4 linked regions of the Homo sapiens genome follow. The protein of the gene in region 1 interacts with the protein of each later gene in a pairwise test. Each region holds a gene or a part of one and is shown on either strand. Other genes may lie near its edges.

Region 1 (7,540 bases):
CTTAGAAACTCAGCAATCCCCTCCCCCAGCCTCTCCCGCCACGGGCAGCCAATGAATGCCACCCGGATGGAATTCAGTCCCCAGAGGCCAGCAGTGGAGCCTTAAGTCCCCAGCTGGGCTGGTAAGCCAGATGCCCGCCTGAGCAGGTGGGCAGGGGCTGCCTGACCGGTAAGACTGGTTCCTGGTCGGGGCCCTCTGAGGGAGTTCTCCATCCCTGTGTTCACACACACAAGGTCCTACAATCCAGGTTAAAACCGGCCTTTTAGGAGAAAAACAAAATCACCCTCTGCTCCCAGACAAGTCCTCAGTTCCCCAACAGGCTAACTAGAAAGTGAACCTACATAGAGATCCTGTCCCCATTCCTTTCTGTCCTGAAAACATAAAGGGGCTCGTGGGTCCCATTAGGCTCTAGAGCTACCAGGTCAGAGCAGATCAAAGCTTTTGGTGTTAAGCAGCAGCTCTGGGTGACCAGCTCTGTGTCCCATGATCCCAGGGTGGTGTGAGAGGCACAGCTGGAGTCTACTGATCAGGATGGCCAGTGTTCTGTGTTGGGGAATCTGGTGCCTCAAGAGTGTAGGGAGTCCCAGATGCACTTGTTCCAGTACCTCCCTCGGCAGCCATTCAAGCGGGGAAGTCGCTGGAGGAGCCCAGTCTCCCGCCCCCAGAGGGGGCCCCACGCCTGGTGCCGGAAACACAAAGGGAGCCCTGGGGGAAGAATGGTGAGGTCCGGTGGCTCTGGCCTGAGGAATCCGGCCCCAGGAGGAGAGACAGTAGGGCACACTTAGCGTCAAAAAAACTTCCCTGAGGGAATGGAAAGCAGGTCTCAGGCATACCATCTCAAAATAAGGGCCCTTAAAAACACTCTACCCAAACCTGGCATGGTTCTATAAGGTCAAATGACCCCCACAAATCCCACACCCCCAGATCTTGGCAGGAGCCTTTTCAGGACTAAGATAACGTGTGGCAGGGGAGGAAGAGGGGGCCTTTCCTCACCTGGAGAAGCCTTTCCCACAGCTCTGGCAGATGTAAGGCTTGCCCACGGACCCATCATGGGACCGCACATGGTAGGACATGCGGTCTTTTCTCTTGAACCGCAACCCACACACAGGGCAGGAGTAGGGCTTCTCCCCAGAGTGGGACAGCTTGTGCCGGTTAAGATGATACACATCACGGAAGATCTTGCCGCAGATCTCACAAGCCACCTGCTTCCTGGTCCGGCTCCTCTTTCGGGGGCCGTCGGGGTCTTCAGAGATGGGTAGCCCATTCTCACCCAGCCTCGGAGGAGGAAGGTCGATGTAGCCCAGCTGGAGGCTGGTGACACCGTGCTGGGCCTCGTGCTGCCGGAGCCGGTTGGCATCAGTGAACACCTTACCACATAGACCGCATGGAAGGATGCCTGCCTCCCTCAGGCCCCCTGGGGACCCAAACATTGAGTCCAGCAGGTTGGCCTTCCTTGGGCGGCCCCGGCCTCGCTTGCCAGTCAGGGGAGGGGCACTGGATGCCACACTGGGGAATGGGGAAGTCAGCAGTTGGGGGGATAGGGGTCCAGCCACCATGGGCAAGCGGTCCACCCCAGGTAACACAGGCAAAGAGGCTTGGCCTGCAATGGCTGCACCAGCCGCCCGAGCTGCCTCCTCCTCTGGCTGCATGCTGCCGGCGATGCCATTGCTGTTGGCTGCCAAGGCTGCCCCGTTGGTCATGTCCAAAGGGAAGCCCAAGTCCGAGGTCCCAGGGGGGCGAAAGAGCATTATATCGGCGCGGGCAGGGGGTACCAGGATCTGTACGTTGGACTGTTTGATGACTTCCTGGCAGATCTCGATAACCGACCTCATCAGCAGGAACTTGGCGGCCGTCATGAGTTCGGGAAAGCTCTCCAAGCGCACCACGATGCGGGAAGTGTAGGCGAAGTCCAGAATGTCCCCAAATACCTTGGAGCTGATAGTGTGCATCTCCAGCTCCCGGCTGCCCCCGGCCCCGCCGCCTGGTGCTGCCGTCGCGCCCCCTACATCAGCCGGACCCCCGTCCGCAGCTCCGCCGTCGCCCAACTGGGCGCTGAACACCGACTCAAAGTACTCGCTGCAGGCGGCCAGCACGGCGCGGTGCGCTGGGAAGCTCTCGTCGCCTACCCGCAAGAGCACGTCGCAGAAGCGCCCGCCGTTTTTGCGCTGCTGGTTCAGGTTGTGCAGCATCTCCGTGCTGTGTCTGCTCACCTGGTATGTGTAGCAGCCAGACGGGCCGCACGAAGCGTCGTTCACCCGCTCCATGGCCGCCGCCCCCTCCCACTAGCCCGGCCGCTGCACCTGCCCGCCCCCTCCCTTCCCCTCAGCAGCGAGAAGCGGGGCGCAGCAGACGTGTCCACACTCCCCACACGTGCCGGCCCGAGGCTCTGTAGTCTCGCAGGTGCGCCGAGTGTACACGCCCCCAGCCCGGATCAGACTGTCTAGACTGCGGGGTGCACCACCCCCCACATAGCCAACCCCCGCCCTCGCTGGACTGCGCGCCACTCTCTCCTCTCCGCCCGCCCGCCTCCCCTTCCCGGTCTACCTTCCGGGGGGGTGCGCGAGCGAAGAGGTGCGCCCCTCCTGCAAACGCGCCTGCCACCTCCCCTCCCGCCCGCCAGGCGGCGCCGGCGCGCAGCCAAGAAGGGCACGCGCACGCGGGGAGGAGAAGGAGGGGTCCGCCGCGCAGGCGCGCGCGCGCGCCGCGGCTTTTCCCGGGCCCGCTGGGGGCGCGCGCTGCGTCCCCTGCAAAGCGCGAGCCGGGGCGGGGGCGCCGGAGCGGAGGAAACAAAAGGCGAAGGCGAAGGCGGCGGCGGCGGGGCGCGCACGGGGGCGGTGGCGCGGGCCGGGTCCCGGAGCCTGGAGGGCGGTGGCGGCGGCGGCGGCGGCTGGAGCGGGCGGGCGGCGGCGGCGGCAGAGTAGGCCCTTCCTCAGGCCGGGAGAAGGCGGCGGCGGAGCGGCGGCTGTGCGGCCCCGGGCTCCGTGTGTTCGGAGCGGAGGAAAGATGGCAGCGGCTGCACTTCCTCTTGCACTTTCACCCCTGGGGGGAGGAGAAGGAGGGGGCGATACCAACAACACCCCCCCTCTCGCTTGCAGAAAAAAAAGAAACGGCGAGCTCAGAGTGGGGGCCCCGGCGTCCCCGGCCTTGCACGTGCGCGCCCGGATGCCTAGCCCGGGCCGCCTGGCGCTGCAAACTTTACACTTTCTTTGTGCCGAGCGCCCCCCCCTCACCAAGACGAGGATGCACGTCCCCCCTTCCCTATTTATACACCCCCCCCCCGCAGTCCGCTCCCCCCGCTTCCTGCCCCCCCTCCCCATTCCCCAGATCCGCCAATGCTAGAGCAGCCTGAGCCCCCGTCCGGCCCCCGCCTCCCCACCCCGCCCGCGGGGCCGGGGGCTGCAGTCTCAGCCCCCCCGGACCAATGCAAACGAAGCGCCGAGCCAGCAAACCAGCTCCCACTGCCCCTCCCCTGCCCGCTGAGAGTGGCGGCTAGCAGGGTGGGGGGGCAGGAACTGAGGGGTGCGGATCCGGGCCCCCCAGCCTGCGAAGCGCACTCGCAGGTCGAGCGGGCGTCGTCCACCCTTCGGAGCCCCGCTTTCATGCGTGAAATTCCCAGAAGTCGCCTGCGACCGCCTCCCTGCTTCAAACACCAGAGAGGGCCCGGGGTCCTGGCCGGAGACAGGCCGAACCTCCGGAGCTGCTTCTGCACCCGGTACATTGATCGATCTGATGGGCTGCGCGCCCGGAAGAGCTGGAGAGATGAAGCCAGCGTCCAGCTTCTCCCCCAAACCACAGCACGCCGAGCTTTGTCCCCGGGGAGCGTGAAGTCACCAGCTCCGGGAGGCGACAATATGAGGGCGATGGACGGGGCAGGGACCCCCGGAAGCCCCAGCAATCCTCAGGGAAGTGGGGGTGCCGGAGGAGTCGGGGACACCCTCAGGCCTCTCCAAGCCCGGAGCATCCCCAGCGCCCGCAGCCCTGTGAGACGCCGGGTGCTCTGGTAATGGGCCCTGCCGCCAGGCCTCGGCGCTTTGTCCCCGGCCCGCCCGGGGATGCTACCACGCTAGAGTTGTACACCAAGGTTTGTCTTCCCAGGAAGCGCTGGCGGCTGCCTTTGGGCCGCCTGGCGCGGAGCCCCAGGCTGCAGGCGCCGCGTGTGCGGGCGGGAAGTTCCCACAGTTGCAAAGAGGCAGCGAAGTATGTGTTCCAAACTTTCCACGGTTCCAAACTGAGCGCTTCCATTAAGAGAAGCGGTGTGCGGGGGAAAAGCATTCTGGGTATTAGCATGCAAATGAACGGGCCCGGCTTCCAACTCCGCTCGGGATTCCCACCGCTGCGCGCCGAGCTCGCGCCCAGCCACGCGCGCCCTGAGGCTTCCGGGCGTTGCCCTGGCGGATGATCCGAGTTCAAAATCGAGACCTCTGCCTTCTGGTTTCGTGTCCTGGTGCTTAGTCACTTGGCCTCCCTGAGATTCAGTTAAACTGTTTCTTAACCTGTGCACAGGGACAGCAGCACCTGTCCTGCACACCTCCGCTCTAGGGCATAGTACATGCCAAACTCCTGTTGGAGAGAATGAATTAGAGGCATGAAGAAAGTTCCCTGGACACGAAGCCAGGAGATCTGTGTTCTAAGCCCAGACTCACTGTCACCTTAGGCTAGTGCCTCCCTCTCTGAGCCACAGCTTTCTTGGGCGGATTTTGGGAACTGGCACGTTTTATTTTTGAGAGAGCTGCTGGGAACATCCACAGAGAAAGAGAAAGGGGCCGGGCGCGGTGGCTCACGCCTGTTATCCCAGCACTTTGGGAGGCTGAGGCGGGCGGATCACCTGAGGTCGGGAGTTCGAGACCAGTCTGACCAACACGGAGAAACCCCATCTCTACTAAAAATACAAAACTAGGCCGGGCGCAGTGGCTCATGCCTGTAATCCCAGCACTTTGGGAGGTCGAGGCAGGCGGATCACCTGAGGTCGGGAGTTCTAGACCAGCCTGACCAACATGGAGAAACCCCGTCTCTACTAAAAATACAAAATTAGCCGGGCGTGGTGGCACATGCCTGTAATCTCAGCTACTAGAGAGGCTGAGGCAGGAGAATCGCTTGAACCTGGGAGGCGGAGGTTGCCGTGAGCCGAGATCGTGCCATTGCACTACAGCCTGGGCAACAAGAGCGAAACTCCGTCTCAAAAAAAAAAAAAATACAAAATTAGCCGGGCGTGGTGGCACATGCCTATAATCCGAGCTACTGGGGAGGCTGAGGCAGGAGAATCACTTGAACCCGGGAGGCGGAGTTGCGGTGAGCCGAGATCGCGCCATTGCACTCTAGCCTGGGCAACAAGAGCAAAACTGTTTCAAAAAAAAAAAAAAGAAGAAGAAAGAAAAGAAAAAGAGGTTTGCTCTGAGTGTCCAGTGTATACACACATCGTTTCTCCATAGTAGGTACAGATATTCCTATTCAACCATTGGAACTGGGGAAGGTGAGTGACCTGCCCAAGGCCACACAGATAGTGATGGAGCCAGGATTCAAACTGGTTAACTGCCCCTTTCTCACCAGTGGCTTCTGAAACCTGTCACCCGTCCATGGCTCCACTTGAACCAGGAACTGACTCTCTGTCTGCTATGCTTAGAAAACAAGGTGCCATGACTGGCCCCATTCCAGCGGATTCACCCGGTGAAGGTGGGTTCAGAAGGTGGTGCTCTGAGGAAAACAGGGAACGTGCATCAGCCCTGTTTTGCAGATAGGAAGCCTGAGGTTCAAGGAGCCAGAGTGGTCCAGGATCCCACCTTGGGGAAGTGGCCAGAGACAGTCCAGACGCCGTTCTGATCCCACCTGGGAGCTTTTTTCCAAATGTCGCCTTGGCAGTGTGATTGTGGGGGTGGGAGTAACCTCTCTACTTCATCCATTACTCTCAGTCTTGCCCATCTCTCAGGCTCCTAGGAATCCATTATGTAACTTAAGGCATGCTTGCAGAACATGTCTTTTTTTTTTTTTTTTAGGTAACATTCAACTGACATAAAATTAACAATTTTAAAATGTATCATTCACTAGCACCTAGTACATTCACAATGTTGTGCAACCAGCACGTCTGTCCAGTTGCAAAACATTTTTATCACCCCAAAAGAAAACTCCGTACACGTTAAGAAGTCACTTTCCATTCCCTTCTCCCTTCATCCCCTGGCAACCACCAATCTGCATTCTGTCTCTATGGATTTACCTATTCTGGATATTTTTTTTATTTATTTATTTTTTGAGACGAAGTCTCTGTCACCCAGGCTGGAGTGCAGTGGCGCGATCTTGGCTCACTGCAATCTCTACCTCCTGGGTTCAAGCGGTTCTCTTGCCTCAGTCTTCCAAGTAGCTGGGATTACAGGCGCATGCCACCGTGCCCGGCTAATTGTTGTATTTTTAGTAGAGATGGGGTTTCGCCATGTTGGCCAGACTGGTCTCGAACTCCTGACCTCAGGTGATTTGTCCACCTCAGCCTCCCAAGGTGCTGGGATTACAGACGTAAGCCACCATGCCCAGCCTGGATATTTTATTTAGTTGGAATTATACAATACTGTATGTGACCTTTTGAGTCTGGCTTGTTTCACTTAACGTAATGTTTTCAAGGTTCATTCATGTTGTAGCATGTATAAATACTTTGTTCCTTTTTATGACTGGCTGAATGATACACCATTGTATGGATATACTACCTTTATCCATTCATCCATTGGTGGCCTTTTGGTTATTATGGATAGTGCAACTATGAACATTTGTGCACAAGTATGTATTTGAGTGCCTATCTTCAGTTCTCTTGGGTGTATACCTAGGAGTGGAATTGCTGGGTCATATGATGGTTCTATGTATAACTTACTGAGGAACCACCAAACTCTTCCACAGTGACTGTACCATTTTGCATTCCTACCACACATGTTTTTATAAATAATTTTAGTGCTGGTCAAACCTCTCATTTTATGAATGAGCATGCTGAGGCCCAGAGAGGTTAAGTAACTTGCCCAGGGTCACACCCTTAGTCAGGATCCAGACTAAAACCAAACTTTCCTGAGTTCCTAGACTTTCAAACACTAAGAGCCTCCCATGTCACCTTTAAAGACCTCGACTACTTGCCCGAGTTTTCATTAATTGACTTAGAAACCTGCCTGGTGAACAACTGAGTTAGCCGTATTTATGAAGCTTTTTTTCTCTCAACATCTATTGAAAGAACCCACCGCCATGTTCCGGATTTCTAGGCCACACCTTGAAAACATGCAGAGCTCACAATCCCTGCATCTGCCTCCTGCTGCTGGCCTGTCGGGCCCTCTTCTGTTGCCATGGAAACCATGCACCTCAGTTTTGGCAGCAGACCAGCTGGACAGCGAACTGAGAATATCCTTGTCTCCTAGGCTAAGCAGAGCTGTCAAGGTCATGTATTCATTAACTAGATTTGTATTTATTGATCACCTACTAAGCACCAGGCTTTTGTTTTGTAAGATGCTAGGGATACAGCAGTGAACAAGCCAGACCACAGATCCTGCCCTCAAGGAACCCGTAGTCTAGAGGAGAC
Region 2 (7,033 bases), on another chromosome or scaffold:
GCCTTGAGTAAACATCAGTGGTAGCCAGGCAGTACTTGCCATGGGCCTAGGGCAGTGGTGGCCATGAGGAGAAACTCCTTCTGCTTGAGGAAATAAGAGAGGAGAGTAAAAAAGACTTTGACTCAGAATTTGGGTATCAGCTCAGCTACCAAGTAGCTTTACCAAGTAAAATAAAGCACCAAGTAGATTCTAGATTCCTAAAGTTCCCGACTCCAGACCCTCCCTCCCAGACAGCATTTCTACACCCACCCTGGGCCAGAAGGGAACTCACCACCTTGAAGGGAAAAATACAAGTTTAGAATGATTCACCACCTGCTGACTAAAGAGCCCTTGGGCCTTAAATAAACATCAGTGGTGACCAGGCAATAGTTGCCACAGGCCTCGGGTGACATCAAGTACTGTGTTGGCTTTAGGTCTGACTCAGCACAGTTGCAGTAGTGGTGGCCACAGAGGTGCTCGTGTCACCCCTCCTCCAATTCTAGGAAGCTCAGCACAGAGAGAAACTTGTTTGTTTGGGGTAAAGTAAGAGAACAAGAGTCTCTATTTGGTAATCCAGGGAATTCTGTCATATAGTACCCCACACCACCAAAGTGCTACCTCTGTTAGTCTGCAAGAGTCATACTATTATTGGGCTTGGGCAGATATGGCTGCAATAGGCAAATACTTAGATCTGAACACTCAATTTTCTTTAAATACTTCTTTAAAGCCTTCCCAAGAAGGGCAGGTACAAGCAAGCCCAGACTATGAAGACTACAATAAATACCTCACTTGTCAACACCCAGACATTGATGAACACTCAAAAGCATCAAGATCATTTAGGAAAACATGACCTCACCAAATGAACTAAATAAGGGCACCAGTAACCAATCCCAGAGTGACAGAGATATGTGACCTCTCAGACAGATAACTCAAAATAGCTGGTTTGGGAAGCTAAACAAATCAAGATAACAGAGAGAAAGAATTCAGAATCCTATCCATAATGAAAATGTAAAATGAAATGTAAATTAGATTGAAATAATTTTTAAAAATCAAGCTGAAATTCTGGAGCTAAACAATTGAATTGACATACTGAAGAATGCATTCGAGTCTCTCAACAGAACTGATCAAGGAGAAGAAAGAATTAGTGAGCTTGAAGACATGCTAATTGAAAATATACAGTGAGGGAGACAAAATAAAAGAATAAAAAAGAATGAAGCATGCAAAATTATTAAAAAAAAAAAAAAAGCCCAGGACCTCATAGCTTCATTGCTGAATTTTACCAAACATTTAAAGAAGAACAATCCTACCCAAACTATTCCAAAAAACAGAGGAGAGAATACTTCTAAACTCAGTCTATTAGGCCAGTATTACCCTGATATCAAAATCAAGCAAAGACGTATCAAAAAAAGAGAAAGTATAGGCCAATATCACTGATAAACATTGATGCAAAAATCCAAAACAAAATAATAGTGAACCTAATTCAACAACACATTAAGATAATCATTCATCATGACCAAGTGGAATTTATCCCAGGGATGCAAGGACTGTTCAACATATGCAAATCCACCAATGTGATACATCATATCAATAGAATGAAGGAATAAACCATATGATAATTTCAGTTGATACTGGAAAAGCATTTGATAAAATTTGGCATCTCTTTATGATAAAAACTCAAAAAACTGGGTATAGAAAGAATCTACCACTGCACAATAAAAGCCATATAAACAGACCTACAGCTGGTATCATACTGAAAGAGGGAAAACTGAAAGGCTTTCCTCTAAGGTCTGGAAATAAGGAGGATGCCCACTTCATCACTGTTTATCAGCATAGTACTGGAAGTCCTAGATAGAGCAATCAGACAAGAAAAAGAAATAAAGGGCATCCAAATTGGGAAGAAAAAAAGTCAAATTATTCTTATTTGCAAATGATATAATCTTACATATGGAAAAACCTGAAGACTCCACCAAGAAATCATTAGAACTGATAAGTTGAGTAAAGTTGTAGGATACAAAATTAACATAAAAATCAGTAGCATTTCTATATGCCAACGGCAAACAATCTGAAAAAGCAATCAAGAAGTAATCCCATTTAAAATAACTGCAAATAAAATTAAATACCTAGGATTTAACTAAAGAAGTAAAAGATCTCTACAATGAATACTATAAAATACCGATGCAAGAAATTGAATAAGACACAAAAAGATGAAAAGATATTCCATGTTCATGGATTGGAAGATCAACATTTTTTAAATGTTCATACTACTCAAAGCAATCTACAGATTCAATGTAATCCTTATCAAAATACCAGTAACATTCCTCACAGAAATAGAAAAAAGATCCTAAAATTTATATGGGATCAGAAAAGAACCTGAATAGCCAAAGTCATCCAGAGCAAAAAGAACAAAACTGACTTCAAATTATACTACAGAGTTATAGTAACCAAAACAGCATGATACTGGCATAAAAACAGACACACTGAGCAATGGAACAAAATGGAGAACTGACAAACAAATTCACATACCTACAGTGAACTCATTTTTCACAAAGATGCCAAGAACATACACTGGAGAAAAGATAGTCTCTTCAATAAATGGTACTGCCAAAACTACATATCCATATGCAGAAGAATGAAACTAGACCCCTATCTCTTGCCATATACAAAATCTAATCAAAGACTTACATCTAAAACATAAAAGTACCAAAAGAAGACATTGGGGAAACTCTCTATAACATTGCTCTGGACAAGGACTTCTTGAGGAATATCCCATAAGCATAGGCAACCGAAGCAAAAATGGAAAAATGGGATCACATCAAGTTAAAAACTTCTGCACAGCAAAGGAAACAACCAACAAAGTGGAGAGACAACCCATGAAATGGGAGAAAATATTTGCAAACTACCCATCTGACAAGGAATTAACTGGCAGAATACATAAGTAGCTCAAACAACTCAGTAGGAAAAATGTCTAATAATCTGATTAAAAAATAGACAAAAGATCTGAATAGACATTTCTCAAAAGACATCCAAATGACAATCAGGTATATTCAAAAGTGCTCAACATAATTGATCACCAGAGAAATGCAAATCAAAACTACAATGAAATATTATCTCACCCCAGTTATAATGGCTTTTATCCAAACAACAAACAATAATTAATGCCGGTGAGGATATGGACAAAAGGGAACCCTTGTACACTGTTGGTGGGAATGTACATTAGCATAGCCACTATGGAGAACAGTTTCGAGATTCCTTAAAAAAATAAAATTAGAACTAATATATAATCCAGCAATCCCACTACTAGGTATATACTCAGGAGAAAGGAAATCAATATATCAAATAGATATCTTCACTCCTGTGTCTATTGCAGCACTATTCACAATAGCTAAGATTTACAAGCAACCTGTGTCCATCAAGAGACAAACGGATAAAGAAAATGTTGTACGTACGCACAATAGAGTACTAATCAGCCAGAAGAAAAGAATTAGAATCTGTCATTTGCAACAACATGGATGGAAGTGGAGGATTTCGTGACAAGTGAAATAAGTCAGGCACAGAAAGACAAACTTGGCGTGGTCTCACTTATTCGTGGGAGCTAAAAATGAAAACAGTTGAACTCATGGAGCTAGGAAGTAGAATGATGGTTACCAGAGGCTGGGAAGGGGTAGCGAGCTGGGGGGAAGTGGAATGGTTAATGGATACATTAATATAGTTAGAAAGAAGTAATAAGAGCTAACGTTTGGTAGTACAACAGGGTGACTACAGTCAACAATAATTTATTGTACATTTAAAAATAACTAAAAGGGGCCGGGCACAGTGGCTCACACCTGTAATCCCAGCACTTTAGGAGGCCGAGGCAGGCAGATCACCTGAGGTCAGGAGTTCCAGACCAGCCTGACCAACGTGGAGAAACCCCATCTCTACTAAAAATACAAAATTAGTCGGGCGTAGTGGCACATGCCTGTAATCCCAGCTACTCGGGAGGCTGAGGCAGGAGAATCGCTTGAACCTAGGAGGCAGAGGTTGCGGTGAGCTGAGATTGAGCCATTGCACTCCAGCCTGGGCAACAAGAGCGAAACTCCATCTCAAATAATAAAACTAATAATAATAATAATAACTAAAAGAGTATATTTGGAATGTTTGTAACACAAAGATATGATAAATGGCTGAGCTCATGGATTAAACAAACAAACAAAATGTCAGAAGTATTTCCTCTGGAGTATAGAGTAAAATGGGGAGGAGTAAGATTAAGTGAACTTTTCTTCTTATTTATACAATTTATTACTGTATTATTGGAAGTTTTACAATGAGAAACATTTATTTTTTTTAAAAAAAAGAAACAATATTTTTAAAGGAATGCCAAAAGATCCATTGGTAGATATGTGATGAAATTACTATAAAAATGTTCGTTCACAGTAAATGGGCACATTTCGTAGTGCATATAGTATATAGTATAGTTTGGGATTACTTTGGATCAAGCAGATAGCCAGGCTCACAGTGGTTCTTGTTTGAATAACAGGCTGGGAATCATAGTTAATTAATCTCTGTAAGCCATAGTTTCCTTATCTGTAAAATGAAATAATACTGTCCTAGTTATATCTCAACATCCACCACAGTGTTTAGCCCCTTTTTAAGAAAATGAATAATTCAGGTTTAATTTAGAGGTCTAAGATCGAGACTTTTGAAATATAACCTTGTTTTTTTTCCTTGTGAATTCTATGAGTGCAGTTTACATGAGCACAATTCAGATGGATGTGTTTTCAACCACACACCTGGCAAGTCACCACACAGTGCTGTGCAACTGATATCATTTGAGAAGAAGAGGATAACTGAGTTCCTGTTGGAAAAACAGCAATTTGAAAGTACTGCTTAAATGAACACAAGATGGTGTCAGGATTCCAAGTTTCTAGTTCTTTCTAGGGAGTTACCTAAGGTCTAAGTTTTATCCTGAACAGAATCTCTTGGGGAACTAAAATGCTACCAATGAAAAGCTCTTGATACTCCTACATCATGAATATTATTGAGCTCTAAAACTTGAACTGGTCGTGTCAGGAGAACCTTTAACTGCTCATGGCAGTTCTTGTGGACTGAGAGGAAGTACTACTGGAGATCTTGGTGATAGTGGCCAAAAGGAAAGGGTATGATTATGATTGCTGGGAAGCAGATGGCTTTTGAATATGTTCATCCAAATCCTAAGCCAGAGACTGTGTTTAGTGCTTGTTCCTCCTGGGAAGGCTTATGGTAAACAAAAATACAGTTTAACATGTTTAATGTTTTGAAATTCTGGGAGAAGAATAGAAATATTCATTTGTTCCTAGGTGTCCACATGAGCATGGAGGTATTCTAAAGTGTAAGAAGTGACAGCATAGGCATGGTTAAAATCTCAGATTCTGACCTCATCCTGGCTCCTCCACTTACTACCTTCAGCATTAGCTCAATAAACCTCAATGCTTTGTCTATAAGATTATGGTGACAATTACATTTAGTTAAAAGATTATAAAGTTTCGGCCGTACACGGTGGCTCACGCCTGTAATCCCAGCACTTTGAGAGGCCGTGGCGGATCACGAGGTCAGGAGATAGAGACCATCCTAGCTAACACGGTGAAACCCTGTCTCTACTAAAAATACAAAAAATTAGCCGGGCGTGGTTGCAGGTGCCTGTAGTCCCAGCTACTTGGGAGGCTGAGGCAGGAGAATGGCCTGAACCTGGGAGGCGGAGCTTGCAGTGAGCCGAGATCGCTCCACTGCATTCCAGCCTGGGCGATAGGGCGAGACTCCGTCTCAAAAAAAAAAAAAAAAAAAAAAAAAAGATTATAAGATTTCAACGGGATAATACATATAAAATGTTTAACTAGCACCGTGTCTTACACATAGTAAAGTCTCACCAAAGTAACCAAATGTAGTAGTACACCCTTATCTATGGCTTTGCTTTTAGTTACCTACAGTCAACTGCAGTCTGAAAATATTATAGTATTTTGAGAGAGAGAGAATGAGAGAGAAAGAGAGAGAGAGACATTCACATAGCAATACACTGTTTTATTTTATTGTTAGTTATTATTGTTAATCTCTTACTGTGACTGATTTATAAATTAAACTTTACAATAGGTACGTACGCATAGGACTAAACAGTCTATATAGGCTTTGGTACTATCCACAGTTTCAAGCATCCATTGGAGGTCTTGGAACATATCTCCCATGGATAAGGTGGGCTACTGTATTGGTTTAAGTTCCTCAGATTTCCTGGACTACCTGACATTAGGCTCTACAATTCTTTCATACATGCTACTTCAATCAGCAGCATGCTTAGCACATAGCATGTGTTTAATAAAAGTTAAATTTAAAATAAAAATCAAGATTTCCAGTTGAACTGAAGCTAGGGAAACCTACACATATTTTGTGCGTTAGTTTGTTTGGAAACATCGTCTCTACAGAGAGTATCTGATGACATGGGAGATGACATGATAGAGTCAGTCTGGTGGAGAAGATATCTAGGCCTTCATCAGTCCCAAATCCACATTATCCATGTAGGGCTGCTTTTGTAAGATCAACGGAACCCATGTCATTGATGTAATGCTCATTACTGCCAGCATCCTTACTGTTTTTGAATATCTATGTAATAGTTGTTTTTCTTATATTATTTCACTGAATTCTTAAAATGCCTTAATGGAGATGCTCTTATTCCTATGTTAACAAGAAAGCTGAGTCTCAAAGTGGTTCTATAACTTGTTCAGTGCCACACACTAGTGAGTGAAAAAGCCATGACTAGAATGAGGGCCACAGAGAGCGGGACAAGCCTTTTTGCCGGGGAAGATAAGCTAAATGTCTCCCTAGACAGGCAGCCCTACATCCTATTGGGTCTTATTGATATCCTGACTTGCTCTAGACTTGTCTGAAACCCTGGTTTATCTGGCTTCAAAGCTTACGAAGCTTCCACCAGACCAGAGGACCATCATTTGAGTAGTGATGAAATATTCTCCAAAAAACAACAACAAATGCGACAAATTATCAGGGACCTTAGAGACTCTCAACATAAATCCCAGTTTCAGAAATTGTGTCT
Region 3 (4,559 bases), on another chromosome or scaffold:
ATCCACTCCAGCATCAGTGTCCTTCTTGCTATTCCTACATGCTCACATATTTTTTCTAAGTGAAATTTTATTTTCCAACAGAACAAGAGACAAACAGCTGACTTTGGCTTTCTTTCTGAGAGCCCCCAATCACATACATTCAGAAGAGTCATAGCCCCAGGCCACTCTCCGGGCAAGTGCTTTCTGCTGTGCTCCAAAGCTTATGGGGTTAGAGGTCAAATATCAAGTCCAGCCTGCCACAGATTTGTGGCTGGGTCTCTGCGCACAGTTTCCTTAAGAAGCTGTGCACCTGACTTGGTTGGGCAAATGAGCATGTGAGCACATGAATAAGGAAAACAGTAATCTCAAATGCATCCGAATAAACCTCAGGGCTGAATTTTAACAACCTTCCTGCTTGCTAGGTGTATTTTCTAGCTTATACTTCCCCAACAAGAGTTTGTTGACTGCCTACTACCTAAGCTGCACACTAGAATCAGATGGTGCTTGAAAAATGACTGTGGGACTGGAAAAGACAGAATCCAAGGGAAGATCGAGTCATCATAAAAACGTTTTATTAATCAAATATATTTACATTTCTTGGTCAATGATCTCTAAATGTGTACCTGTTTTTTCATTTAAATACAACTTAATCCTGGTAGATTCCATCACAAGAATACAGCAGCATGCATGATCTCATTGGTCCTTTGCAGTTATTTTTTCATTAAATAATGTGAGTTTAATAAAGTTAGAAAACTTTATTAAGTTTTACCCATTCTTACTGTGGGATAATCATTCTTGTCATATCAGTGGCCCTTACAGCAAACTACACACTCCTTATCACCCACAGTGAGATTCTTCTCATTCTCTTAACTGACTTGTTTAAGCTTTCCAAACTCCAAAAGGCAGATGTGAAACTGGGCATTCACTCTAACCATTTTATTTGGTGGAAAGTTGGAGAGAGACATATTTCTATTCCAGTAGGGAACATTTACAGTCCTAAACTTAAAATAACCACATTAAAGAAATGTATACAATGTCCTAATAGCATCTAAATATCACACTTCTATTAGCATCCTACAGAACTGGATGTCTTCCCCTTGATATAAAAAAAATAATTAACTTGGGACATTAAGTTTCCAAAATAATTTTGCTGATCTGAGCCAAAGTTTTCCTTAATTCGTTAGTCATCACCTTAGCCTCTGCATTTAAACTGGGGGAAGGCTTTTTCATGAAATACTTAGAACTGCTAAGGAGAATAATTTTGCCTCTGGCTTTTGCTATACATTTTCTCCAGGTTGGGAGAAACTAGAGAAGTGTACTAGATTGTTCAGAGAAAGTAAGTCTACAAGTGCTGATTTTGTTAACATTAGACAATGCCCACATGTGGATCAACAGGGACTGTGGGTTGGCAGACTTTTGCTCTAAGATGGCTGCTTTCCCCAACATGTGGCAATCACCTGATACGGCATAATTGCTTTTAAACATGAAAGAGTTGTGCTGTAGAAATAGATCTCCAGCTTGTTAAAGTTTATATCTAGACTGTTTTCAGTTGGGAGTGATGTACCAAAGTGGGAGAAAGGCACCAACAAGGATGTTTTTCAAGGCAGGAAACAGGAGATATCAACCAGGACCCACCATGTTTGACAAGGAAAATATATTTATCATTTCAACAAACAAATGTGCCCATTAGAATCAGAATCTGGAGGAAAGTAGTATACATTGTGGTTTCAATAAACCACGGTAAAGAGTTGTAATAAAGCCAGTTCATGATGAAATTTTGTACACTTACTTTTTGAACAAACCTCACAGTTTCATCTAGATTGTGCCCCAGAACTTGAACTGGTTCCTTGAGTACCTCATGCATGTAACTACACTATCTGTGCCTTTGACAAACCAAACCTATAATGACTCCAGTCTTTCTGCTGCACTGCTTTAAACCAACAGGCTAACAACATAAGCCCATATTCTTAATGCACACAACTGCGTAATGACTCCATTGATGCCTGGAAAGTAACTCACTTAGCATTCAGTCAGAACAAAGAAAGAAAACGAGATTTCACTTAGCCCCGTTGAGGATGTGTTTTTACCTGTCGATAGTGTTCGAACCTTATTCTCTTCTGGCCACCCTCCAACACAACCTGCCCTTCCTGCCTGTTGCCATTTGTCCTAATGTATATCACACTTGAGAGGGTTATTTTTTTTTCTTTCAATGTGGAATTTTAGATTCCTGCTTAGAAAAACAAAAACAATGCCTGACAGCAATGGAATAGTTGAAATTCTGTCCAGCAATGAGATTTGGGCATGACAAAATCAGCATCTATAATGATACGTGTTTTAATAGCACTTCAGTATTGTTTCCACAAACACATTTTATAAATAAATTATACTTGTGTTTATTAATTTTTAAAAGCTCTTGTTCTCAAAAAAAAGCTTTACATAGAGAAGTATTTTCCTCTTTTAACAATTGCCTGTTTATGGCTTTGAAGGAGGAAAAAAACTAAAGAAGCTACAAAGCTAAAACTGTTAAGCATATATGAGAAGGGGATAATGATAGTATCTTTGTTATAGAGTTACTAAGGATTAAAAGAGATAATCCACATTAAGCATTAGAACAAGGCATGGCAGTAATTGCACAATATAATTTATAATCATCATCATTCCCATCAACCTCTGTGGGAATAAGCGCAGAATGTCCTTATTTTTCCATTAAAATTTCCTCCATAGGTTTTCTAAGTGCAGTGGTGGCATATTCAGTCTATAGGAAAGACAATTCAAATGTTTCATGACTTTGACCTGTTTCCGACATATTTTTTGTTATCGTTTTACATATTGATCTGATGAAACATCTGGCATTTATTATTTAAAGGAAGAAACTAAATAAATATTTTAAATGTCAAACACAGCCATGGACTACAGGTTAAACATCTGTGGCAAGGTTTCCACAGATAAAGCAATATTCTTTTCAGTTTGGCTCTGTCTGGCCAGTTGTACCTGACAGCTGATCTCTGGGTTTGTAGAATGCAATCTTGGGGAGGGCTGAAATAGGTGCCTTCCTAGTAACCTGCGTTGTTGTTTTGTGGTAGTTCAGATAAATGCTAGTGAGGGGAGAACTTTAAACTTTGGGTTGATGATCACCCAGGTATCTAGTTAGCGCATAAAATTTTCCAAAGCTCTTCACCTTAAAAGGATCCTGACAAGTGAATAACATTTCTGGAACTTACAGTTATCATTTAAAGAAGCATATATCTCAGTATCTTTTAAAATCTGATGTCAGGATCTAGTAAAGACTCTGGGAAATAAAAATTAAATTCATGTCAAGGAAGAAACAGATAAACATTTCAGGAAATGTGATTATTTATTTCTTATTCCTGGCCTGGTTTCTGTAGGCATGCATAGCCTTAATATGAGAGCAATGAATTTGCTCCTAAACGCAGGCTGCTGGGTACACTCAGAGGGACCCGTTAACCCTGCTGTTCTGGAAATGCCCTCTTTGTGAGACGTGCCATGATTCCCATTTTAAACAACTCAATAGATACTTGCATTTTAAATTTTAAATTAGTGCAAAACAAATAATGTTACTTCTGCACACCGGGGAAAGGGACTACACTGCCAACGCTTACCACTAATGAGGCAACTCTGACCCATTCAGGGTCGCAGATCTCCTTCCCTGAGCAACTCCAGCCTTGTACCCAACTTGTTGCCTTATCATTGAAAGGGGGGGTCATAAAAACCCAAGACCCAGGCCCTAATCCTGGTCTCTTGATACTGCTGCTAACAACCAATAGCCCAGTGAGTTAAGCAAAGACAACCAAGTTGTGCATCTTAACTTGTTTTGCAATATGCTATTTTCTGGTCCCCAGATGAATTTACCTCTCTCAGATTTTCCCAGTTGGAACAAAATCTTTAACTTCACTGAGACAATGGTCTAAAGGACTAAAATACCCATTTTACTAGCAGCCACTTAGGAGGAGAATATTATTTTATCATGAATAGTCACTTAAATAATGCTGCTTATGGTGAACACATAAAATGGGGTCTTTATATAAAATAAGAGTTCAATAAATACTTGTTGAATAAATGAATGAAACAATGAACATCTGATTTAAAAATTGATGAACTGCTAAATGTTCGTATAAATCTTTGCATACCTGAACCAGAATGAAATTTTTACAAGGTAAAATTCAATTATGAGCCCTATGAGGACACAATGATGTCATGATCTTTTCCTGTTATACATAGTTTCCCAAGAAGGCTACATTTAAATGAACACAATAAAAAATGTACCAACTGAATCAAATTATATAAATTATATGAGATTAAGTTTCATAGCTTTAATTAGCCATACAATAACTTTTTAGAAGTATATCTCCTCCAAAAAAGTCATTTTTAAAGATAAAAACAAAACAAAAATGAAAAGCTTATCTATGAAAAATGTATGCACATATCCTGGGGAAAATACAACTTTGCCTTGGGATATTGAGATTTTTCTAGAAATGCAAAGGTCTGCAGCTCCATCTCTCATCCTATTGCACCCTGACTTTTCCCTGGCATTACCTTTCGTCTTAGACTCTGCTAAATAA
Region 4 (7,033 bases), on another chromosome or scaffold:
CAGAAATGTTCTGCTTTATATCTGTCAGACTGACAAAAATGAAAGTTACTTAATCCTCAGTGCTGGAGAATAGATGGGGGAAACAGTCATACACTGTTGAGGAAACAGAAATTGGTTCAGCCTCTTTGGAGAACAGGTTAGCAATGTCTATCACAGTTGAAACTGCCAGGAATTTTCCTTATGAATAAAATCATCAGTATGTAGAGTATACAAAGATATATACACTGTTCAAACAAGGATGTTGCAACATTATACATTTGTAGGAGGAAAAAAACTGGAAACTATCTTAGCCATCATCAAGAAACTAGAAAACAAATGATGGTACATTTTTATCACTGGACTATCAGATAGCCTTAAAGATCCAGGTATATCTGTGTGTTGGCATGTGCTCAGATAAATTAGCTGAAAAAGAAGATCTCAGGAGAGTTTTGTATAGTTGTGTTAAAAAGAAAAATGGATAAACATGTAAATGAATATGGGTTTATATATGCATATGAAATTTATGGAAAAATACATAAAACATTTATAGATTTATTCCGGGGAAAAGGGATGAGTGGCTGAGAAGATGGGGAAAGTTTACTTATGATACACTTATATACTTTGTGTAATTAAAAAGCATGACATACAGCCATAGGAAAACAAAAGCTTAAGTTTATATATAAAAGAAAAAAAATGAATGACATTTTGGTGAAAATCTTCCCTATATTTTTATAAGGTAATTGGCAATGTTTATAAGGCAACATTTCCTCTCTATCCAGTCCATGGGATAGCCAACGACAGCAATAGTTCCAGAAAGAAAACAGGAGACAGAGAAAGTCACCAAAAAGAGTCAAGAGACCTAAAGAGAATAAGTGTCAAAATTTGTATGTTTTACTTGTTCTTGGATGTGAGGAAACAAAGGCAGTTCTGACTAAGAGTCTGAACTAAGACATTCTGAGAACTCTCCAGGCTGGCACAGACTCTGGGGCCAAGAAGCGGAGGAGACTAGGGATGCCCAGGTAAGTAATGGCCATAAGTAACCTAGTGAACAAAATGAATGACCCAGCTCCTGGGGACATAATGACACAGTGCTTTGCTCACCTATTTCCCTAGCTCCTGAATACTCCTAGGGACTAACTCTAATGATAATAATGCCATAAGAATAGTTGGCATGTATCAGGTACCTCCTACCTGCCAAGCAGAGGCTAAATGCCTAATCATATCAATTTATATTATACTATTATTATTCCTGTTTTACATATGGGGAAATTGTGGCTCAGCAAATACACACATGTAACTTACTCAAGGTTGCAGTAGGTGCTGGAGGTAGGAATCAAACCCGTACCTGACTCTAAAGCCAGCCAAGGTCATTGCTAGCCTTCCCCCCTCTGAAGGAAGGACAAGAAAAAAGGTACTCCCTCAGAGTAGGGATAGCCCCATAAAGAGAAGACAGCATTTTTATGCAAAGAAAGGGCCAGAGAGTGTAATGATTCAGTACAAGGACTTTGAAGCCGGATGTCCTGAAATGGAATCCTGACTTTTCCATTTACTGGCTGTGTGACCTTGAGTAAGACATTGAACCTCTCTGCTTCACTTTCCTGAACAGTAAAATCAGAGTAGCACTAAAGTCACACCTGGCCAGACACAGTGGCTCATGCCTGTAATCCCAACACCCTGGGAGGCCGAGCCGGGTGGATCACTTGAGGTCAGGAGTTTGAGACCAGCCTGGCCAACATGGTGAAACCCCTTCTCTACTAAAAATACAAAATGTAGCCAGGAGTGGTGGCGGGTGCCTGTAATCTCAGCTACTCAGGAGGCTGAGGCAGGAGAATCACTTGAACCCGGGAAGCAGAAGTTGCCGTGAGCCGAGATGGCACCACTGCCCTCCAGCCTGGACGACAGAGTGAGACTGTGTCTCAAAATAATAATAATAATAATAATAATAATAATAATAATAATAATAATGATGATGATGATGATGTCACCCCTTAGAGTTGTTAGGAGGACTAAAGGAGTTAAGTAGACAGCACCTGGCTCATAATAAGTACCAAGTGATTATGATGAATATTAAGAAAAAGGTGCCCGTCCCTCTAAGCAGATGCAACCCTGCAGGGTGCAGAGCTTGGCAAGTGGATCCACAGGCTAGATTTCAGCCTCTCCTTTAGCCGAGTGCCACTGTGCCCATCAGCAATACACAACTCTACAACCTTACATAGGTCCTGCTGAGCAATTAACCTGCATGTACTGGCAGTTCTTCCTCCCACCTTCCCTTCCATCAGTCTGGCTGTGAATCAGAATCACCTGGCACACTTTGAGAAAATACAGACTTTCAGGGCCCTATATTGGCTGATTCTAACACAGGTGGACTGGGCTAAGGCCCAGGCATCTGTACTTCTCACAAGTCCCAGGTGACCAGATGACCCAGGAACACCATGTACCTGGATACATGTTTTTGAAAGTACTCAAAGCTCATCATTCTAGCTGACATTCTGGCTGTCTGAGTTGCTCCTTGAGACCAAGCATCCTCTTTGTCAAGTCTGGTCCCAGGCCTGGGCACACAGAGAAGGGGCACAGTGAACATCTGTGACTCCGCAAGCCAGCCAGCACAGCAGATGGCTGTGTGAACAGGCACAACAGGCTGCATTTGCTTTCATGCTTAAGCGGTTTGCACCAGGGAACCCTCACCTGTAGACTTGGGGTCTCCCATACCCTTGCTTCTCAAAGTGCAGTTCACAGACTAGCAGCTTGACACCCCCTGGGAGCTTGGTAGAAATGCAGAAAACTCCATACCCAGCCCTACTGAGTCAGTTTCTGCATTTTAGCAGGAAACCAAAGGGGATCCATATGCAAGTTTGTGGATACGCCCTAGATCCCTTCTCCCTATCCAAGTAAGTTCTAACCAATGGGCACATCTAACCTGTTCAAACACCCTTTGGGGCCAGTCTTCTCCTTCAAACTCCTACAGAGACCCAGAAGAACAGCACAGTCCCTTCAACAGCCCAGACTCACACTTAGCAGCCAGCCTAAGGCTCCAGGTGAACCTTCACTTTAATAAGTTATTTATTTCTAAGTCCATATTAAAATAAACCTTCCCAATAAATTGAAAAAGAGACACCTCTGGCCTCTATAATTCCAGGAAGTAAAACACCCTCCTCTTTCGTACAGAATTGAGACCCCTGCTTTCCTGCCTAAAGCCATCCAGGGACATCAAACGGTCCAAAGAAAACAAGCGATGTCTTCCCGTTGGCCAAGCTTCAAGTTATCAGGCAGATTTCACACTGCAGTTTGACCTCATTAATCCAAGGCCTATCACATTGCTGTAAATGTCAGTGGAAAATAGCCATTCAGTGGGTTTCCTTCATTCCACTAGAAAGGGACAAAACAGGAAGCTGACAAGCAGCTGTGCCCCAGCTTGGCAAATCCCAAGGGCCCAGCTGACAGCACCTATGCTCCTCTGCCCCAGCCTACTTTCCAGATAAAGACGGGTCCTGTATCTACATGGGTAAAATGCAGTGGTGATGGCAGGAACAATTCAGATAATCTGGGCCCCCAAGCACCTGCTTGGGAAGGAAAACAGAGAGCTCGGTCTGAATGTCTTTGGCCTGAGTTACTAATTGGCTGTTCATCATTCAAGTTCATCTAAATCTCTTCTGCCTATTCAAAATGTTCCACAAGCTAAACCCCTGGGACTCCAGGGGACATAAGGCCTTCCAAGTCCTCATTCATTCCTTTAATGCATATTGATTGTCTCCTGTGTGCTGGACATCATGCTGATCACGCTGGCCAACTGGAGACACACAGCTGAATGAATTGGACACAGTCACGGACCTTATGGGGCTCATCGTCCAGTGTAGTCTTTCTTAACCTCAGCACTATTGATATTTGGGATCAGATCATTTTCTGTTGTGGGGGTGCTCTCCTGTGCACCACAGGATATTTAGCAGCACCCCTGGTGTCTACTCACTGGATGTCAGTAGCTCCTCTCCCCCACTATCCCCCGAAAAGTTGTAACAACCAAAAACGTCTTTAGACATTGCCAAATATCCCCTGGGGAGGGTCAAACTGCCCCAAGTTGAGAACCACAGGTCTAGTGGATGAAACAGAAGACTAAAAGAGTAATGCTCACATATAACCATATAATCACAATTATAAGTACTGCAGAGAAAAATCTGCTGGATATTACATCAATATTATCTACAGCTTGGAAGCCAAGCATTTTCCATATGATTACAAATCCTTATGACAATTCAGAATTGTGTTTGTGAGTTACTATTTAGCAACTTATTGAAGATGCTAAAATTAGCAACTTATTTCTTCATCTTTATTTCCAGATGAAGAAATTAAGGTTCAAGGAAGTGAAAAAATTTCCCTAGGCCCCAAAGCCAGTGGAGGCAGAGCCAGCATTTGAACCCTGGCCCCAAACTTTGCCCCCATGTAAAAGGAAATGTAAGCCTGTGTTTGGATGTCCTCTGAAACAGGGAGGGTCTGTGGTCATGTGATGCTCTGATCAGCCATCCTAAAAGATTCATTCATTCCTTCCTGGGGCCACCGTGGGGCTCAGCCACCATCTTGCCACATCAATCAAGCTGCACATTGCCTGCATCAAGGCACATCTGTGGGCGAAGGAATGCCATTCTAGATTCTGAGACATCCAAGAACACCTCCCCACAAAGCGTCTGCACCCAGGAATTTCCCCAAAGTCAGGTTACATACCCAGAGCACACCCCACTGTGACCCATCTCCAAAATGCCTACTGCCCAGCGCCCAAAGGTACACAAAGCAAAAGAGGCCAGATATTCTGCAGTCAGCCTTAGATTTACAAAGTGTGTGAAGAAGGTGGTGAAGGATAGCACATGGCAACTTTGAGATGCCCCCCAAGACGTGAGTTCCTGTCACTTACAAGCTGCATGCCCTTTAGCAAATTGCCTCACCCTCTGTGCCTCGGTTTCTCCCTCTGTGCAGTGGGGGATAAGTGCATTCATTTCAACGGATTGGTATGAGAATTCAATGGCGATGCAAGTAAAGACCTTTGACAGTGACCAGCATCCAGAAATGCACTTGGTGCTATATCATGATCAATCAGTGAGTCAGGTCATGACGCTTCCTCCACTTCTACCCTCTTCTCTCAGGTGAGAAACTGAGTCCCAGGAAGAGAGAAACAAGTGCAGAGGTGGGAAAAGCATCTCAGGAAGAGGGAGTGGACCTCTTCTTCTTCGTGCTTCCTGGGTGGAATGAAGAGGGAAGGATGGTGAATGTATGGATAGTTGAGCAGAGACCAGCCCTTCCTCCCATGCAAAAGTTAATCCTGAAGTTTCCTGGACAACCCTCACTAGAGAACCACCCTCCAAGGAAGGTGCAGAGGGACTGCCTCGGGTCAGTGAGTGTTTAATCCTTCGGGGCTCCCGGCAGGATAGCCTCTGCTACCTCCCTGGCCTTGCTTCTGCCTCCATCAAACTTTCTCATGACTCTGCTCCATCAGCAACTCCTCCCACTGCTCTCCAAAAACATCCAGCACTTTTAAGCCTCGGTGCCTCTGCACATGCTGTTCTCCCGGCTAGGGCTGCCCTACCACCTGGAAAACTGTCACTGAAGGGCTCAACATGCTCCCACAGCAACTTTTGCCCACCTGTTATTGGCAATAATAGACTAATAATAGCAACGAACATCTGTGAGCACTTATTAATATCTAGAAAGCCCAAGCTGGGTTTTTAAGTTTTTTGGTTTTGTTTTTTTTTTTTTTTTTTTTTCGAAACAAGGTCTTACTCTGTTGCCCAGGCTAGAGTGCAGAGGTGCACGCAATCATGGCTCACAGGAGCCTCCACTTCCCCCGTTCAGGTGATTCTCCCACCTCAGCCTTCCAAGTAGCTGGGACTACAGGTGCACACCACCATGCCTGGCTAATTTTTTGTATTTTTTGTAGAGACGGGGTTTTGCCATATTGCCCAGGCTAGTCTCGAACTCCTGGAGTCAATCAGTCTGCCCACCTCTGCCTCCCAAATTGCTGGGATTACAGGCATGAGCCACCGCACCTGGTCCAAGCTAGGTTTTTTATCCACAGTGTCTCACTTCTCTCCTCACATCATCATCTTAGGGAGGTGGCTTATCTGCTTGAGAGGTAAGGCCTCTGTCCATCCTCACCCAGCTACAAGGTGGCAGCTTCAAGATTCAGACCTGGGTCAGCCTGAGCCATGTGGATCTGCTCGTCACTCTCTCTTCTTGCTGTTGCAGCCTTTATCCCACAGTGTCCTCATTATCTGTCTCCAGGCCTGCCTCTCCCCATAGAGGGAGAACTCTGAGAGCTGCCTCATTCATCTTGAAATCCCTTGCTAAGCACAAGGGCTGGGATGGAATAAACGTCTTTTGAATGAATCAATGAATCCTGGAAAATGGCAGTCAGCTGAGAAAGGCTAAGTGGCTGCTCACAGACTCCCCGGGGAAAAGCTGGTGCTAGACTCAAGTTCCCAGGAGTGAGCCCCCACCCCCGCCCCAGGAGACAGGCTGAGAGGCTTTCCCCGTCCTGATGGCTACAGGCAGAAGAGACAGGGTCGCACTCACTCCCCACCCTAGCACTGGAGGAGGTGGGACCTTTGAGAGTCCAACACAAAGGAGGAAATAGTAGTGATGGTGACAATGATCATTTCCTGCATTCCTACCCACACCAGATGCTGTACTGAGCACTTTTTTTTTTCTTTTTCTTTTTGAGATGGAGTCTCGCTCTGTCACCCAGGCTGGAGTGCAGTCATGTGATCTCGGCTCATTGCAACCTCCTGCTCCCGGGTTCAAGCAATTCTCGTGCCTCAGCCTCCCAAGTAGCTAGGACTACAGGCATGCGCCACCATGCTGCACTAATTTTTGTATTTTTAGTAGAGATGGGGTTTCACCATGTTGGCCAGCTGGTCTCGAACTCCTGACGTCTAGTGATCCTCCCGCCTTGGCCTCCCAAACTGCTGGGATTACAGGTGTGAGCCACTATGCTCCACCCTAGTACTGAGCACTTTCTATGTGTTAATGGTCTCATGGAATCCTTACAATCCCACAAAGTAGGCATTACTGT

The links.
Region 2: the proteins of PATZ1 (region 1) and LURAP1L interact in binary tests that used the Homo sapiens proteins (3 or more experiments, as listed by UniProt).
Region 3: the proteins of PATZ1 (region 1) and PRDM6 interact in binary tests that used the Homo sapiens proteins (3 or more experiments, as listed by UniProt).
Region 4: the proteins of PATZ1 (region 1) and PPP1R16B interact in binary tests that used the Homo sapiens proteins (3 or more experiments, as listed by UniProt).

Annotation. Positions count from the first base shown.
Region 1 is NC_000022.11:31,343,339-31,350,878, forward strand, and holds the start of PATZ1 (POZ-, AT hook-, and zinc finger-containing protein 1 isoform long C), read right to left. Parts: upstream 3,009-7,540; 5' UTR 2,265-3,008; coding exon 994-2,264; intron 1-993. UniProt on the Homo sapiens protein: Transcriptional regulator that plays a role in many biological processes such as embryogenesis, senescence, T-cell development or neurogenesis. Interacts with the TP53 protein to control genes that are important in proliferation and in the DNA-damage response.
Region 2 is NC_000009.12:12,778,019-12,785,051, reverse strand, and holds part of LURAP1L (leucine rich adaptor protein 1-like), read right to left. Parts: intron 1-7,033.
Region 3 is NC_000005.10:123,190,237-123,194,795, reverse strand, and holds the end of PRDM6 (putative histone-lysine N-methyltransferase PRDM6), read right to left. Parts: 3' UTR 530-4,559; downstream 1-529. UniProt on the Homo sapiens protein: Putative histone methyltransferase that acts as a transcriptional repressor of smooth muscle gene expression.
Region 4 is NC_000020.11:38,808,679-38,815,711, reverse strand, and holds part of PPP1R16B (protein phosphatase 1 regulatory inhibitor subunit 16B isoform 1 precursor), read right to left. Parts: intron 1-7,033. UniProt on the Homo sapiens protein: Regulator of protein phosphatase 1 (PP1) that acts as a positive regulator of pulmonary endothelial cell (EC) barrier function. Involved in the regulation of the PI3K/AKT signaling pathway, angiogenesis and endothelial cell proliferation.